Linked DNA regions of Homo sapiens: region 2 is linked to region 1. The links come from fine-mapping of genetic effects on gene expression. A gene starts in region 1. The other region holds a variant in brackets. All regions are shown on one strand. Distances are from middle to middle.

Region 1 (8,340 bases):
GAACTTCTCCTCCCTGGCTAATCTCCTCCCTAGGGTTATCATCTTTCAAAGAAGTAGGGGCACAGAATTACAGAAACGGGTTTTATGGAACACAAATGCCTTTTAAATGGCTTAGATTAAGGACAGTCTGTGCAGTTCTCAAGCGGCTGTCTGTCTTCACATCTCGCTGCTCAAGTGAGGGACGTGGGCTGTGGGGAGAGGCTGAAACTGTCAAGATGGCTGCAACTGGAAATGGGAAGCCAGGCATTTCCCGGGGTAATTGTGTGGAAACAGGAGACAGGCGTGGGGTCCCTTCAGCAGGGAGGCGGTTGCCTTTCTGTGTAGGCACTAGGTGAGATGAAAGTGGCTGGGAGGCATGTTCCCTGGGGATGAGGCAAAGGCATCTTACTGGCTTTGCACATTATGCAGGATCACAGGCAGAACTACCTAGGGACCAATTTTGTTTTGAGGATGACGAATGCAGAATCCCAGCACATTTGCCTTAGAGCTCCCCTCCCTATGCCCCCTCAACACACATTGCCCAGATGAACACATCAAGGCAGTAGGGAAGAGGGCTGGGGGCGGTGGTTTGCGCCTGTAATCCCAGCACTTTGGGAGGCTGTGGCGGGCGGATCATGTGAGGTCAAGAGTTTGAGATCACCCTGGCCAACATGGCGAAACCCTAACTCTACTAAAAATACAAAAATTAGCTGGGCATGGTGGCATGTGCCTGTGATCCCAGCTATTCGGGAGGCTGAGGCAGAATTGCTTGAACCCAGGAGGCAGAGGTTGCAGTGAGCCGAGATCACACCACTGCACTCCAGCCTGGGCAACAGAGCAAAACTTTGTCTCAAAAAAAAAAAAAAAAAAAAAAAAGACTGTAGGGAACAGGAAGTGTCTAGACTACAACTCACACTTGGAACTAGGAGATTCCCCTGCATATCAGTGTTCTGCTACTCTCCGGAATCAATCGATCATGCTTGTGCAAGGAATTATATAAACCTGAGGTCCCAAACTCGAGGCCTCAGCAGATGGGCAGGTAATGTAACTGAATGGACACAGTGGGAAAGGACCCAGACCACCAAGCAGGTACCTACCCTGGCTGACAGCACCCCACCGTCTTTCTCTTTGTTGAGGACATGGGCCTCGAGTGGCTTAAAATAATGCAATTTTATTATTTTACAATTCTGGAGGTCTGAAGCCTAACACAGGTCTGTAGGGCTGCACTTCTTCTGGAGACTCTAAGGGAGAAGGTTTCCTTTCCATTTCCAGCTCTATCTCTGCCTGCAGGTCCCTCCTCTGGCCCCACCCTCAAAGCCAGCAATGTGGCATTTCTGTCCTCTCACCTCTTGCTTCCCTCTTCTAAGACCCTATGAACATGCCGCACCCACCCGGACACTGCAGGAAGACTCTCTGATATGGTTTGGCTCTGTGTCCCCACCCAGATCTCACCTTGAATTGTTACAATCCCCTTGAATTGTAACAAGGGGGGGACCAGGTGGAGGTGATGGATCATGGGGGCGGTTTCCCCCATGCTGTTCTCATGACAGTGAGTTCTCATGAGATCTGACAGTTTTATAAGGGGTTCCCCCTTCGCTCTGCTCTTATTTTCTCTCCTGCCACCCTGTGAAGAGGTGCCTCCTACCATGATTGTAAATTTCCTGAGGGCGCCCCCCCAACCAGCCGTGCTGAGCTGTAAGTGAATTAAACCTCTTTTCTTTGTAAATTACCCAGTCTCAGGTATTTCTTCATAGCCGCATGACAACAGACTAATACACTCTCCCTATCTCAATCTCCAATCACAGCTGCAACATTCCTTTGCTGTGTAAAGTAACATATTCCCAGGTTCCAGGGATTAGGCTGTGGACATTTTTGTGGGGAGGCATTATTCCATCTACCACAGTTTGTATGTGGGAGTACTCACAATTTGTAAATGCTAGCAAATAATTCTGAGGTTCATAGCACTGTGTATGCCAGATCACCAGGTGTCTCTGGGCAGAAATGAGTGGGGAGAGAATGAATCTCCAGTCCATGACTTCCGACCTCTGATTTAAACAGTGTTTGTTAAAAGGAAGGCTTGGTGTCATGCTTCCTCCTGCCTTGTTCATACATACACATTGCGTGTCAGACTTCCAGGGAACTGAGAAGCTTACCAAGCATTTATGTTCCCAGGCCTGTGGCTATTTTTTTCCCTCAGTTTACAAAACTAACAATGTTTATTAAGCTCTCATTGTATGCCAGTGTGCTAAATATCTCACATGGATTCTTTCTTTTAATTTGCACAGCAATGTCATTTTTATCCCTGTTTTACAAATAAGAAATCTGACACTCAGTAACGTTGCCCGATGTCACACAGGTAGTAAGGGGCAGAGCTGCCATGAAGGCCAGGCTGTCTGGCTCCAGAGTGAGCTGATACATGAAAGCTAAAACCCCCTTCAGTTAAATAACAACCACTGAGGGGTTGCAGTGGTGTGTACCTGTAGTCCCAGCTACTCTGGAGGCTAAGGGAGGAGGACTGCTTCAGGCCAGGAGTTTGAGACCAGCCTGGGCAACACAGCAAGACCCCCATCTACCAAGTGGAACCCAGGTTGGCCTACAGAAGTCCAAGTTCCAGTATGCCTGCCACTCCTGGACATTGGCCTCCTTCTTCCACGAGAAGACAGCTGTTCGGCCATACAGTTACCCATCTCTCTGCTGCAACGCTGGACTCGAACACCACTACCAGATGCGTTCTTATCAATGTGTCTTTGGGCATGTCATTTGTCTTCTCTGAGTCTTAGTTTCTTCATCTAGAAAATAGAAAGTTATTATTATTGCAGATATTTACATACTGTGTGCCAGGCACAGTTCTAGGCATTTTACATGTATTAATCCATCTCATCCTTAAAATAACTCTCTAGGGTAGATCCTGTTATTATCTCTGTTTTACAAGAGAAAGACGGAGGCACACACAGAGATTAAATAACTTGCCCTAGGGCACAGCTAGTGAGTGGTGAAACTAAAATTGAACCCAGGAGGTCTGGAGATAATTCCTATTCTGTTCACCCAACTGGGACATTGTGAAGGTTTTGTGAAGGATCATTCATTCATTCATTCATTTTTCATTTCCTTACCAACTCAGAGGGAATTGTGATATTATTTCTTGTGAAGCACTCAAACCATGCATGCTGTGTGACAACTTCTCTGGAAATGTCTTTTATCCTAAGGTTGTTGCCAAGGGAGAGCACTGAGCCAGCTGTGTGATGAGCCTGGCTAGGGTGGCCCCTGAGGAGGCAGCCTCCAATCTTGAGAGTACAATATAGTCCCTTGGGCTATAAGGCTGGTCAAAGCCTAGGCCCTAAGGGGAGTCATAGGAAGGTCAAAGGGGAAACCTGTCAGTACACTTTGGACCTGGCATGAGGAATAACAACGAGTCAGCAAGGATCAAGGGAAGGCTTCTTAGAGGAGGTGGCATCTCAGATAAAAACACCACTAGCAAATCCTCACTTGGTGCTGCCTGTGTGCTGGGCCTGCTTGTAGATGCTTTACACGTTTTAGTTCATTTACTCCTCCCAGTAACTTTACAACACACATGGCATCATTACTGCCCCCATTTGGCAGGTGAGGAAACTGAGGCACAGAGAGGTGAGGGAACTTGCCCAGATCACAGAGCCCATGCACAGCACAGAGCCAATTCTGTGCACTGCTTATATTAACATTTACTTAATATTTAAATTATTTTTGACCTAAATGAAAAACTTTATCTCAGTATAGTACAGAATAGAAAACCAGTATGGATAGAAAATCAATACTATGAACCATATAATGAAATCACTCTAGACTCAGTTCTCTGCTAAGAGCTTCTAACTCAAGATCTTTTCTGTTAAAAGTGGGAGATAAGTGTAGAGAGGAATTAAAGATATATTAGGATCAAACTGAGGCCAAGTGAATTTGCTCATGCCTATAATCCCAGTACTTTGGGAGGGGGAGACAGGACTCCTTGAGGCCAGAAGTTCGAGACTGGAGTGGGCAATATAGTGAGACCTCATCTCTACTTTTTTTTTTTTTTAATTAAAGATGTATTAGCACCAAACTGAGACTTTCTCATTGGTGCAATCAGGATTGAAAAACAAAACAAAAGAAAACAAAACTTTCTCACTATGTGATGGAACATGAATGAGCGAGCTCTGTGCATCCTCTAAAATTCTAAAATCCTACTTTGGGAAACAGTGGTGGCACTGAAGAGCATAGACTCAGGAGACAGATTACCCTGCTTCACATCTTGCTGGCTATCCAGTTCCTGGAAAAGAATCTCTCTAAACCTCGGTTTCTTCATGGGTAAAATGCTGATAGTAATAGCTCTGACTTCATAGAGACCTTGATAACAAATGAAAGAACGTAGGTATAATAAAACGCAAAACCAAATACACAGTGAATACTTAATAAACATAATCCATTAGCATTATCGAGCTTTGCACAGATGCCTCTGGCCTTTTTGTTGTTGTTGTTGTTAGATGAAGATAATAAAAATCATCATAGTAAACACATAGCGATTACTATGTGCTGGACTTCGTCGTAGTTGAGATATATTACCATCCTAAGTTAAACTATAATCGTTTATTGTTATCTCTAGGTCTTCCTAGATGAAATTTTTACCCTAAAGGATCGTAAAGTCGGCCCACCGGACGTCAGTGGGGTCCCCTGTTCAGCCCTCTCGTTCTTCTGGGGATCTCTCGGGACACTGACGAGGTGGCACCGGGACCTACAGGTGGGCCGCAAGCCCCGCCCCCAGCGACGGCTTGTAGCCCCGTCCCCCGACGCAGCGCCTCTCCAAGTTTGCCCCGCCCTGCAGGACTGCAGAATTTCCTTTCCGGCGGCGCGCTGTCGTCACGCGTCCCGCGCCTCCTCGCGCCTGCGCCGTGGTTGGAAGGTCGTCCCTGTGACCGGCTTGGCGGTTGGAGCGGCTGTCGCCATGTTGTCGGTAGCATCCCGCTCAGGCCCGTTCGCGCCCGTCCTGTCGGCCACGTCCCGCGGGGTGGCGGGCGCGCTGCGGCCCTTGGTGCAGGCCACGGTGCCCGCCACCCCGGAGCAGCCTGTGTTGGACCTGAAGCGGCCCTTCCTCAGCCGGGAGTCGCTGAGCGGCCAGGCCGTGCGCCGGCCTTTGGTCGCCTCCGTGGGCCTCAATGGTGAGCCGGGGCGAGGGCCGCGAGCAGGGCTGGGGGTCTCTCGGTGCCCGCTCCTCCGGCCCCCAGCAGGGAGCGGCCGCGGGCGCGCGAGCGGAGCCTGAATCAGGTCGGGCTGGGCGGCCTCCGCAACTCTGGGCCTGGCCCCCGGGCTCGGGGCGTCTTTCTGGTGGCCGGCCTGGACTCGCGTCCGCCGGCTTCGCCTGGTTCCTCCTCGGCCGAGTTCACGAGCTCTGTAGTCCCGCTGTTCCAGCCACCTCTGAGGGGTTTTGTTGCTTGCAGGTCGTTTGACCTTGGGCGAGTTTCTAAACGTACTTCCTGTGAAATGGATTCATATCTTTATCAATTTTGTAGGGGTGTCGTGAGGCTTAGGTGGAGGAATTCTACGTAAAGCCGTTAGCACAGTTTGGGCACTTACATGCTTAAGAAATGGAAACTTACTAATATTTGGGAAGTTGGTCTTCTCACCACTACCGATCCCTTCATGTCCTTCCCCTTCATCACCCCCCCACCAAAAAAAAAACAAAAAAAACATACACAAGGTCAGTTACAGTGTAGTGTCACAACATAATCAGTCGTCAAGGACGGGCAGAGATTGACGACATTTACATTTTACAGATGAGAAAACAGACGAGGTAGAATGACTCGCACCAGGATCCGTGGTGTGGACATGTGGTAGCAGGGATTTGACAAGACGAATTGTCGTAGCCACTGAGCTCTTCGCAGGGGCTATTCCACACCCTCTGTCCTTAGATCCCCGTTTATCTTCTTTGCCTCGCCTTCCATCTTTACTTGGCCCTGTATCGGAGATAGAGAAATGGCAGCCTGTGGGCAGTGTGTCTGCAGGCTGTGTAGTTTTCAAAAAAACTGGGAAGACTAATGGCATCTCTTAAAATGCTGGAAGCCGGTAATACTGGGATCTAGTTTCTACTTGGGAAAATTCCATAGTGTGCTGTGTAGTGGCCGCCCCCGCAGTTGGAGCAAGTGGTCTTCTCCAGTTTGTCACAGTCTTTACCAGGTCTGCGTGTTTCATTCTGTTACCAGCCTGGCTCCACTGATAGCTGTTTGTGACTCTTCCCCTACACGCTAACCAAATTGCCCGCCACTTTTCTTTTTACTCTGTCTTCATTCACCCTGGGCTCTGCACTTTCTTCATGGTCCTTCCACTAAGTTGCTACATGTCCATATGTTTTCCTTACCCATCTTTTCAATCTCAGTTAAGGATCAGGTGAATAAAGTTTTTATTTGCTGATTTGTCTGTCTCTGTAGCACATACACTTTACACTCTGTATTGTGTTTATTGGTAACTCCTCCACCCTTGGGCTTAAGGGCATAGAGAAGGTAATATCTTCTTTATTTTTCTATCTTTCACAACGTCGGATTTTGTATACAGTTAGTGCAAAGTATTTGTGAATGAATATTTGTTAAGGAGCATCAGTGGGTTTTGAAGAAACTGTCCATGGCAGGTGTAGAGTACCCTAGCCCATCCTTGGGACCTGGAGGTGAGAAGGAAGGAAGGAGAACATTTCAATAGCAAAAGAAAAGCATCTTTGGAATTCGTCGTGTTGCTAAAGTTTCTTCAAAAAATTGGAGGCTTACATTTCTCTGATGGCCAGTGATGCTGAGCATTTTTTCATGTGTTTTTTGGCTGCATAAATGTCTTCTTTTGAGAAGTGTCTGTTCATGTCCTTCGCCCACTTTTTGATGGGGTTGTTTGTTTTTTTCTTGTAAATTTGTTTGAGTTCATTGTAGATTCTGGATATTAGCCCTTTGTCAGATGAGTAGGTTGCAAAAATTTTCTCCCAATTTTTAGGTTGCCTGTAAACCACAATGAGATACCATCTCACACCAGTTAGAATGGCAGTCATTAAAAAGTCAGGAAACAACAGGTGCTGGAGAGGATGTGGAGAAATAGGAACACTTTTACACTGTTGGTGGGACTGTAAACTAGTTCAACCATTGTGGAAGTCAGTGTGGAGATTCCTCAGGGATCTAGAACTAGAAATACCATTTGACCCAGCCATCCCATTACTGGGTATATACCCAAAAGACTATAAATCATGCTGCTATAAAGACACATTTACATGTATGTTTATTGGGGCACTATTCACAATAGCAAAGACTTGGAACCAATCCAAATGTCCAACAATGATAGACCGGATTAAGAAAATGTGGCACATATACACCGTGGAATACTATGCAGCCATAAAAAATGATGAGTTCATGTCCTTTGTAGGGACATGGATGAAATTGGAAATCATCATTCTAAGTAAACTGTCGCAAGGACAAAAAACAAACACTGCATGTTCTCACTCATAGGTGGGAATTGAACAATGAGAACACATGGACACAGGAAGGGGAACATCACACTCTGGGGACTGTTGTGGGGTGGGGGGAGGGGGAGGGATAGCATTGGGAGATATACCTAATGCTAAATGATGAGTCAATGGGTGCAGCACACCAGCATGGCACATGTATACATATGTAACTAACCTGCACATTGTGCACATGTACCCTAAAACTTAAAGTATAATAAAAAAAAAATTGGAGGTTTACCTGACTTAGAGAAACTATTTTTAGAAACAGGCAAATAATGTAGAACCATAAGGCAAAAACCTTTTCTGTAATCATTTCAGCCTGTAATTTAAGTTCACATTATAGTCTGTCTAGATGGTTCATGGCAGGATGGCTTATGGGAGTGGAGGGGTTGGATCTGGAGAAGATTCTTGAATTGGAGAGGAAGGTTGTACTATTTTCATGCAGATTTCCAAGGCGCATTGGAGCTCAACCTTAAAATAAAACTTGTTTTGTTAAAATTCCTTAAATTTTCTCCTTTAAGTATTTGATTTTGCTTTAGGTTAGAATTAAATCTAGCATCTTACTGAAAGTCAGACCTAATGCAGCTCATGTAAATATTTGGAGAATGATTTTTGCAACAGGGCAGTTTAATTTCCGAAAGGATTCTTGGTGGTGTAGCCTACTAAAGTGTAACCAGCTAGATAGAGTGGGAGGAGACTTTTGCCACCAAATCTCTGAATGAGAAGGGCAAAGCCATTTTATTGAGTTTTCTTGTACATTTCCTTGTATACTGTTAAGGGTTGTGGATACTGTTTTTAATGTAGAAGTATGAACTTTTTATTCCTTTATCTTTTAGGGAGGAAGCTCATCTTTTCTGTAATCCCAGGTAGTGCTAGGAGCA
Region 2 (8,340 bases), 24 kb before region 1:
TAAATGAGGGTCTATCTGCCTGATTGAATATTATAGAGTCAAACATTTTTGTTCCTGAAGAATATGCAGTAACATGGGGAATGCTTACGACATAAGAGAAAAAAGCAGGGAATACAATTATGTAAACTGAGGGTTTAAAACTCTGTAAAAATGATCCTTAAATACAGAAGAATACTGACAGGAAAATTGGTTAAATGTTAATAATGGTTATATCTGCATGGTAACATTATGGCTTTTTTCTTTTTTCTACTTCTGTGCACATCTCAAATTCTCTGTAATAAGCAAGAACTACTTTAGCTATAAAAACTGCTTCTCTATATTTGTGACTTGGGGGAAGAAAGAAGGAGGCTGGGTGCCGGGACGCTTGGGTCCTCATGCTGGGTCACACTGATGGTGTGGCCCTGGCAGAGTCACGTTGCTTCTTGGGACCTCTATTTTCTCATCCATAATATGAGAGCTGGACATATCAGTCTACACAACCCCATACTGCCCTAAAAATCTTTTATTCTTCTGGATTATTATTATTATGATTTGCCTCTTCTCATTTATTCTCTTTCTTAATTTCCCTCTCCTTTTCTCCTTTCTTTTCCTTTCTTTCCTCCTTTCTTCCCTCTCTTTTCTCCTTGCTTCCCTTTCTTAATTTCCCTCTCCCTTCCTTTCTCTTGTCTTGCTCTTTCTCATTCTCCAACCTGCTCAGTGTCAGAACTCTTAACATGCAAACATCAAACTGCTGCCAAATTCCAACCAGCCTATAAAACAAGCAAGATTTATTCCTACTGGAATAAACTGTTGGAAATCAAGGAAAGCACAGCTTCAGGAATGGCATGATCAGGGTGCCCTATTTTGCTTGATCTCCCTCTGGGTCCTTCTGTGTGTGCTGGCTTTGGCCCTGGGCTGACTTCCCTTTTTGCAGCCATAGTTGTTCCCACAATTTTAGGTTTCCTGCCTGCACATCACAGAATCCAGTTGGTGAGTGTTCCTGTCTCAACATTGCAGAAGGGTCACCTCTAAACTAATGACCAGGTCTGGGAAATGGAATACCTGAATTTATTTCAGCCACTAAAAGCCCCAATCTGGAATTCTGGGTCGGGCCATGAGCTGAGGTGGATTCCTGAAGAAAAAGCTGGGTATCAGTAGGAAGTGAACAGAAAAAGGACCCTGGGTTGGCACCCCCAAATGCTCATTACATCAATCGGCACGCATTTGGGGGCATCAGCTGATCCCCCAGCACCGCGCAAGGCCTTGGGATCAACTTGGGGGAGATCAGATGATTTACCTTCCTCAGTAGCATTTCTACTCACCTCCCAGAGCAAGTGCAGAGCAGCTTAGGGCAGGAGATGGCACTGTTGAAGCCATTTCTGGGTCTTAAATCAGATGTGTTTCTGTGTGTGTGGATTATCTGGGTGGAGGCTGCCATTGTCTCACTGGCTTTGTGTGTTTCTAGCATGATGGGACCCCTGGGATATGAGGGGGTCCTAAGCACCCTGACCATCTTCTCCCCATAGTTGAACTTCCCTGCCCTATTCTAAAGTTGCACACTCAGACAAAAGCCATGTTCTCCCCATCTCTCTCTTCTTTTTTATCTTCCATCTCTAACTTACAAAGTCATTTTTTAAAAAAGTCCATGTTCCCCTGCTGAGACTTTGCCTAATGAAGTATTTTATACTATTCGATCCTTTAAAAAGAATGAGGGTGAGTGTTTATTAAATTAATTTTTGCTTTAATGTATTTCCTCCATATTTCATGCTGTGGACACAACTGTTTCTGCAAATGACTTTTTCCAAGATGTCTGATTTATTTTTAATTGCCTCTGTCCCTTGGGTTTGTTCCACGCTACAATTGTTATTTCTATTTGTGTGGTGGTTAAAGCCTAGAGATACAACAGGTAAAGGCTTCTCCCTTTGGGGGAAAGAAGGCTGTGACTCTGAAGGGTGGAAAAAGATCCTTTCTGAATAGGAGCTTCAGAAACTTGTGTTTCTGAAAGTAACACAAGTTACTTTCCTGTGGCTTCCAGAATTGAAATACAGATAACCTTTTCTCTCCTCTGTAAAACACCTTCGGTATAGAAAGCTGGTTTACATGCACTATCTCAAATGCTCCACGTTTTGGTGAGGGCTTTCCCCACAACTTATGAGGTAATTAAATGAGAGGTTATTCCTATTTTGAGGGTAAAAGTAGAAACTCGCTAAATGTTTGTAATAGCACCTGTGGAGTGTACAGTTTTGACCTTGAAGATAAGCATCTTTTCATAATTCTACTCTATGTCCCCTCAAAAAGAAAAAAGATTCCAACCCCCAAAGGATGTTTTTGCCTTAAATATTTGTGTTTTCAAAACACAATACAGAAATAATATAAGTTGTATTCATTGTGAAAAAATGGAAAGAAAATGAAAACAATGAGTGTTTGTGTTGTGTGTGTGTGTGTGTGTGTGTGTGTACACATGCACTAATCAGCCCCCCACCTGGAAGTGACCATTGTCTGGAAAGACAGGGGGGTTAAGCTAGGTTCTGGGGTAAGTTCTGACCTGCTGGGATTTCATCTGCCCATCAGATCCCTCCACATTTCTCCCTACCTCCTGCTCCACCATCTTTAAACCCAGTGGGTGCAGGGAGTGCACATCTGCTGTCATTGCCTGCTCAGTTCATTCTCTCTTCTCAACCTCAGTGTCCCTCTGGGAAACCACCAACTCACTATCAACCCTTGCAGTGAGTGGAATGATTGATGCCAACCTCAGAGTCAAGAGTGGTCATGTGATCTAGACTTAGCCAATCAGAAACAGTGATAACGAAAAGCTGTGCCTCTTGGAAAACACTAGCTCTGTTTCTGCCAGACATGAAGATGAACGTGGCCATCCTGCCATAGAAGACATTGCTCAAGAGGGAGTCCACACAGAATAAAGTAGAGCTGGGAGGCTGAGGGGAGGCTGAGGGTGAGACCATATCCTCATGCTGGGGTTTTCTGTTCACATGAGCTAATGCATTTATTTTTTGCTAACTCCAGCTGGAGTTGCATTTTCTGCCATCAGCTCAAAGTGAGGAATGGTTGCTCATGTGCTTATCAGAGTGGAAACAGGATAGTTATTTTTAAAAGAAAAATTTATTTTTGAACTTCCCCAGTTCAGTGCTTACTGAAAAGCTGCAGAGAGGAGATTTTCCTCAAAAGTTTCTCAGGATACTAGACGGGGTGAGATTTCTGCTACTGACTGAATTCTGCTAGGATTTATAATTTACTTTCTTTGTGGTCAGAGGACATACTTTGTAAGATTTCATTCTTTAGAAATCTATTGAATTTGTTTGATGACATAGTGTATGATCTACTAGATGCACATCCATTTGCACTTGAAATGAATGTGTTCTGCAGTTGTTTGGTGTAGGGTTCTATCAATGTCAAGTAGGTGAAGGTGGTTGATAATGTTCTTCAGACATTCCATACTTTTACTGGTTTCTTGTCTAGTAGTTCTCTTTGCCCCCTGAGAGAGGTGCACTAACGTCTCTTACTATGACTGTGGCTTTGTCTATTTTGCTTTTTAATTTTGTCAATTTTTATGCATGTATTTGGAAGATCTGTTATTAGGCACCTACACCTTTATAAATGCCATATCTTCCTGATTGTATTGACTCTTTTTTAAATTTTTTAATTTATTTTTATTTTTGAGATAGAGTCTCACTCTGTCGCCCAGGCTGGAGTGCAGTGGCACGACATCAGCTCACGGCCAGCTCTGCCCCTGGGTTCACACCATTCTCCTGTCTCAGCCTCCCGAGTAGCTGGGACCACAGGCGCCCGCCACCACGCCCGGCTAATTTTTTGTATTTTTAGTAGAGACGCGGTTTCACCATGTTAGCCAGGATGGTCTCGATCTCCTGACCTGGTGATCTGCCCACCTCAGCCTCCCAAAGTGCTGGGATTGCAGGCAAGAGTCACCACGCCTGGCCTGACTCTTTTGTAGTAATGCAAAGTTCTTCTTCCCCTCTAGTAATAATAGCACTTGTTTTGAAATCTATTTTGACTAATATTATTATGACCACTTCAGCTTTTGTATGTTTACATTTTGCATTTTTTTTGCATATTTTTCTTTCAATATATTTTTCTTGTATTTGAATTTAAATTGTGTCTATTGTAAAGAGCATATACTTGATTCTTGCTTTTTCTTTTTCTTTTTTTTCTTTTTGAGACAGGATTCTTTCTCTGTCACCCAGTCTGGAGTGCAATGACGTGAACATGGCTCACTGTAGCCTCAAACTTCCAGGCTCAAGCGATACCTCCACCTTTTTTTTTTTTTTTTTTTTTTTTGGTATAGTTGCGGTATCACCATGTTCCCCAGGCTGGTCTGACATTTTGGGGCTTAAGCAGTCCTCCTGCCTCAACCTCCAAAATGCTGGAATTACAGACATAAGCCACTGTGTCTGGCCAATTCTTGCTTTTTATCCAACCCTTAAAAATCTCTGCCTTTTGATTGAAGTGAATATTCTTTATACATTTAATGTAATTATTGACATGGTGTATCAAAGTTTGCCATTTTTCTATTTATTTTCTATTTGCCTAATCTATTTGGTGTTGTTCTCCCCTTGTTCTTACTTTCTGGTCTTCTTTTTTGTTAAAATATTTTAGTATTTCATCTAAATTCCTTATTGGCTTTCTATCTATATATTTTGCAGGAGAGGCATTCATACCTGTAAGCCCAGTATTTTGGGAGGTGGAAGCAGAAGGACTGCTTTAGACCAGCCTAGCAACACAGCAAGGCCTCATCTCTACAAAAAAAAAAAAAAAAAACCTCCAGGCATGGTGGCACACATCTGTAGCCTGGGCAACAGAGTGAGACCCTGTCTCCAAAATATACATATTTGCCTTATGTTTTTAGTGGTTCCTAATAGGATTACTATAGCTACCTTTAACTTAACCCATTCTACTTATGGTTAATATCAACTTACTTTACACAAAATATAGGAAACTTGAAATAGTATGTTTCCATTTGCCACCCTATTTTTAGTGTTATTT[T/A]TATATATATATATACACACACACACATTATAAACCCATTTGTGCAGTATTACAATTTTTGCTTTAAACAATCATATTTTTAAAAGAAGAAAATTAAACAAATGGTCCTTTGTATTTATGAACATATCCACTATTTTCAGAGCTCTTTATTTCTTCAGCTTAAAGGACCTCCTTTACTTTTTTTGTAGTGCAGGTCTGTTGGTGGTAACAAATTATCACAGTATTTGTTTTCTAAAAGTGTCTCTATTTAACCTTCATTTTTGAGGCATATTTTATCTGAATATAGTATTCTTGGTTGACTGTTCTTTTCCACCCTACAGTACTTGAATTATATTGTTTCTATTTCTTTTGGCATCCATAGCTCATGATAAGAAATCAGTGATTATTCTTACTGGTTTTCTTCTGGAGTCACTTTGGCTGAATGTTTTCAAAATTTTATCTTTCTTTGGCTTTCTGAATGTTGAGTATTATATATCCAGTAGAATTTTCTTTAGTTTTATTATACTTGGGGTTTATCGAGTTCTTGCATCTGTAAGTTAATTTTTTCAACAGAAATTGGAGCTTTTGAGGCTATTCTTTCTCTAAATATTTTTTTCTTTCCTTTTCTGTTGCTCCTCTCATTCTGGGATTCTAATGACCTGCATTTCAGACCACACACTATAGTCTCACACATCTCTGAAAGTATTTTTATTTTTAAAACCTTTTTTGTGTATGTACCTAAGACTGAATTAATTTCTATTGATCTGTCTTCAAGTTTACTACTATTTTCTTTCACTTAAAATATGCTAGGCTGAGCACAGTGGCTCATGCCTGTAATCTCAGCACTTTAGGAGGCCAAAGAGGATGGATTGCTTGAGCCAAGGAGTTCAAGGCCAGCTTGGGAAAAATGGCAACACCCCATCTCTACAAAAAATGCAAGAAATTAGCCAGGCATGGTGGCACATGCCTGTGGTCCCAGCTTCTCAGGAGGCTGAGATGGGAGGATCACTTGAGTCTTGAGATGGAGGTTGCAGTGAGCCCAGGTTGCACCACTGCACTCCAGCCTGGGCAACAGAGTGAGACCTTGTCTCAAAAAAGTAAAAAGAAAATATGCTATGGAGCCTATCTAGTGAGTGCCATACAAGTGTCATTGTCCCCCTTCCTTTGTCGGACTGGGTGATTGTTCTCCCATTTTTCAGTAGAGTGTAATAAGTAAGCCAGCCTTGCCTTCTAGCAAGCATTTTTTTCCATTGATAATAATTTAGGCTCCTAGGATAAGAAGGCAAGGTTCCCTGTGAAAGGAAGAGAACAGGGTTTGAGGCAATGGTGGTAGTAGAAATGGCTAAAATATCTCTCAGGAAAGCAGGGAGGAAGAAGAGTTAGGTGGGAGTGAGGTGTCAGGCTCCTGGGAAAACTATGTAAGGAGGAAACGTACTGGGGAAAGCCAGGGGCTATAGCCTGTCGAAGGTCTGGGAGAAACCACATGTGTGTGTGTTCAGGGATGGCAAGGCAGTGAATTCTTCAGCAGGCCACCCAGCTCTATGCCCCACTCACACCTGCAGACTCTATTTGCTTGGGTTTGAGAGTCAGCATTGCATAGAGGTGAGTACTTCATGTTGTCAGTGTCCAGCACTGTGCCCCTTGGCCACCCAGCAGAGGTGACACTCACACCTGTCCTGGGAGTCCATCCAGTCCCAGATCATTACCTCATGTGATACACCAGCCCCTTCACAAAGCTCCAGGACACTGTAAACCCAGGAAAAGGATATCTCACCTGTTTCTGGGGGGTAGTGCTGAACTTGGACTTGAGAAGCCCTGCCACTGTGACAGAGTTTACCGACCTGTTGGTAAACCCCAGTGATATGGAAAGTCCCCGCTAAGGGGAGCGTCTGACCCTCACAGTGACCTGGAGAGGCAGGTGCTATCCCATTTAACAGAGGATAAGTGAAACCTCAGAGAATCCAGTGCCTGGTCTCACTGCCACGAAGGAGATGAGCCCAGGAAGTCTGGCTCCAGAACCAGTCCATTTAATTACTGTGCTCTCTACCCACACAGGAAGGGCTCAGAAGCAGTTTGCCAAGCTCACTCCAGAATGTGTGTGTTTGTGTGTTTGTGTGTGTGTGTTCTTTTTTTTGTTTTTTAAGTGTTAGTTCAAAGCTGCAGCACCCAGGATGGGGTCAGTCACATTCATAATCTACATACATTCTTAGAGATGCCCAACTGGGCTGCCTCAGGTGCACAACTGGGCAGCCTTGGCATTCTGTGCTTTTCTAGGGATAGGGGTGGGAATGGAGGGAGGAGCCAGTCTAGCAGGATTGTCCGGGAGACCTCTGATGGCACCCATGAAAGCTCCCTGAATACAGTCTGAACTCAGGCCCTCAGGCTACAGGTGCAGAATTGAGGCCAATAAAGAGAATGTGGCCTGCTAACAAATGAGCCATTGGAAGGTATAGACCAACAACACAGATCTCTTTCCATGCATCCATCCATCCATCCATGTATGTATTCATCAATTCATCCATCTATCCAGTCCGCTGTTATCCATCCGTCCACCATACACCCATGCATCCATCAATTCATCCATCCATGTATCCATTCACCTATCCATACAGTGATCATTCATCCATCCGTCCATGTATCCACTCACCTATCCATCTATTCATTCATCCATCCATTCATCTATCCATTTATCCATCCATCTATCCATCTACCCATCCACCAGATACTTACTGAGCTACCATGTTCTAGGTGCTGTATTGAAAGCTGGGGATTGGTGGAAGGCAGGGCAGACACAGTGCCTGTCCTCATGGAGTTGATATTTGCTAGAAGGCTTTTGATCTGTCCCTCTCCCAGCCAATGCAGAGCTGTGTCCGTAGTATCCCTCACACCTTATTTTTCCTATAATTGTTTTTTCTTGTAAGCAGTATTCTTCTGGAAGCCCCAGGAGAGGACCTGTGCCTCCTCTGACTCTCAGTGTGGTGAGAACTGTGTCATGGAAGAGAAAACCTAGGCCCTGGTGTCAGGCTCACTTGGGTTCGAATTCTGGCTCTGCCCCTTCAGCTAGTCACTGAACACTGTGCCTGAGTTTTTCACCCCTGACACAAAGATCATAAGATCTACCTTGCAGGGCTGATGTGAGGACCAGAAACACTCAGCTCATGGTGGGGGTGGGGAGCATGCACTGCCTGCTGGGCCTGGGGCATCTCTTATGGCAACACTGACATGGACTTGGCCCTTGGAGCACAGCTCACCCAGAGATCGGGATGCGCAGTGCCTGGCACCTGGCAGGTGCTCCACACGTGGGGCTCTTTCTCCATCACACTGGGCAGACTCTCTTGGCAGCTGCTCCAAGAAATCTGCTTGGCT

The links. PIP is the estimated chance that this variant, and not a neighbour inherited with it, causes the effect.
Region 2: its variant is fine-mapped to the expression of UQCRFS1-DT in testis (GTEx, PIP 0.99).

What each region holds. Positions count from the first base shown.
Region 1 is chr19:29,209,709-29,218,048 of GRCh38, reverse strand. UQCRFS1-DT (UQCRFS1 divergent transcript) reads right to left here and starts at 4,796. Exons shown (of 2, transcript NR_184022.1): 1 at 4,641-4,796; 2 at 2,234-2,768. It overlaps UQCRFS1 (ubiquinol-cytochrome c reductase, Rieske iron-sulfur polypeptide 1), which reads left to right and starts at 4,898. Exons shown (of 2, transcript NM_006003.3): 1 at 4,898-5,144. The coding sequence starts at 4,931. RefSeq lists an enhancer at 4,715-4,954 and a silencer at 4,995-5,304.
Region 2 is chr19:29,233,813-29,242,152 of GRCh38, reverse strand. No RefSeq gene overlaps it. Among named protein-coding and RNA genes, the nearest start is that of UQCRFS1-DT, 25 kb to the right of the region's middle. The variant T/A (reference allele first, on the strand shown) is at 4,996.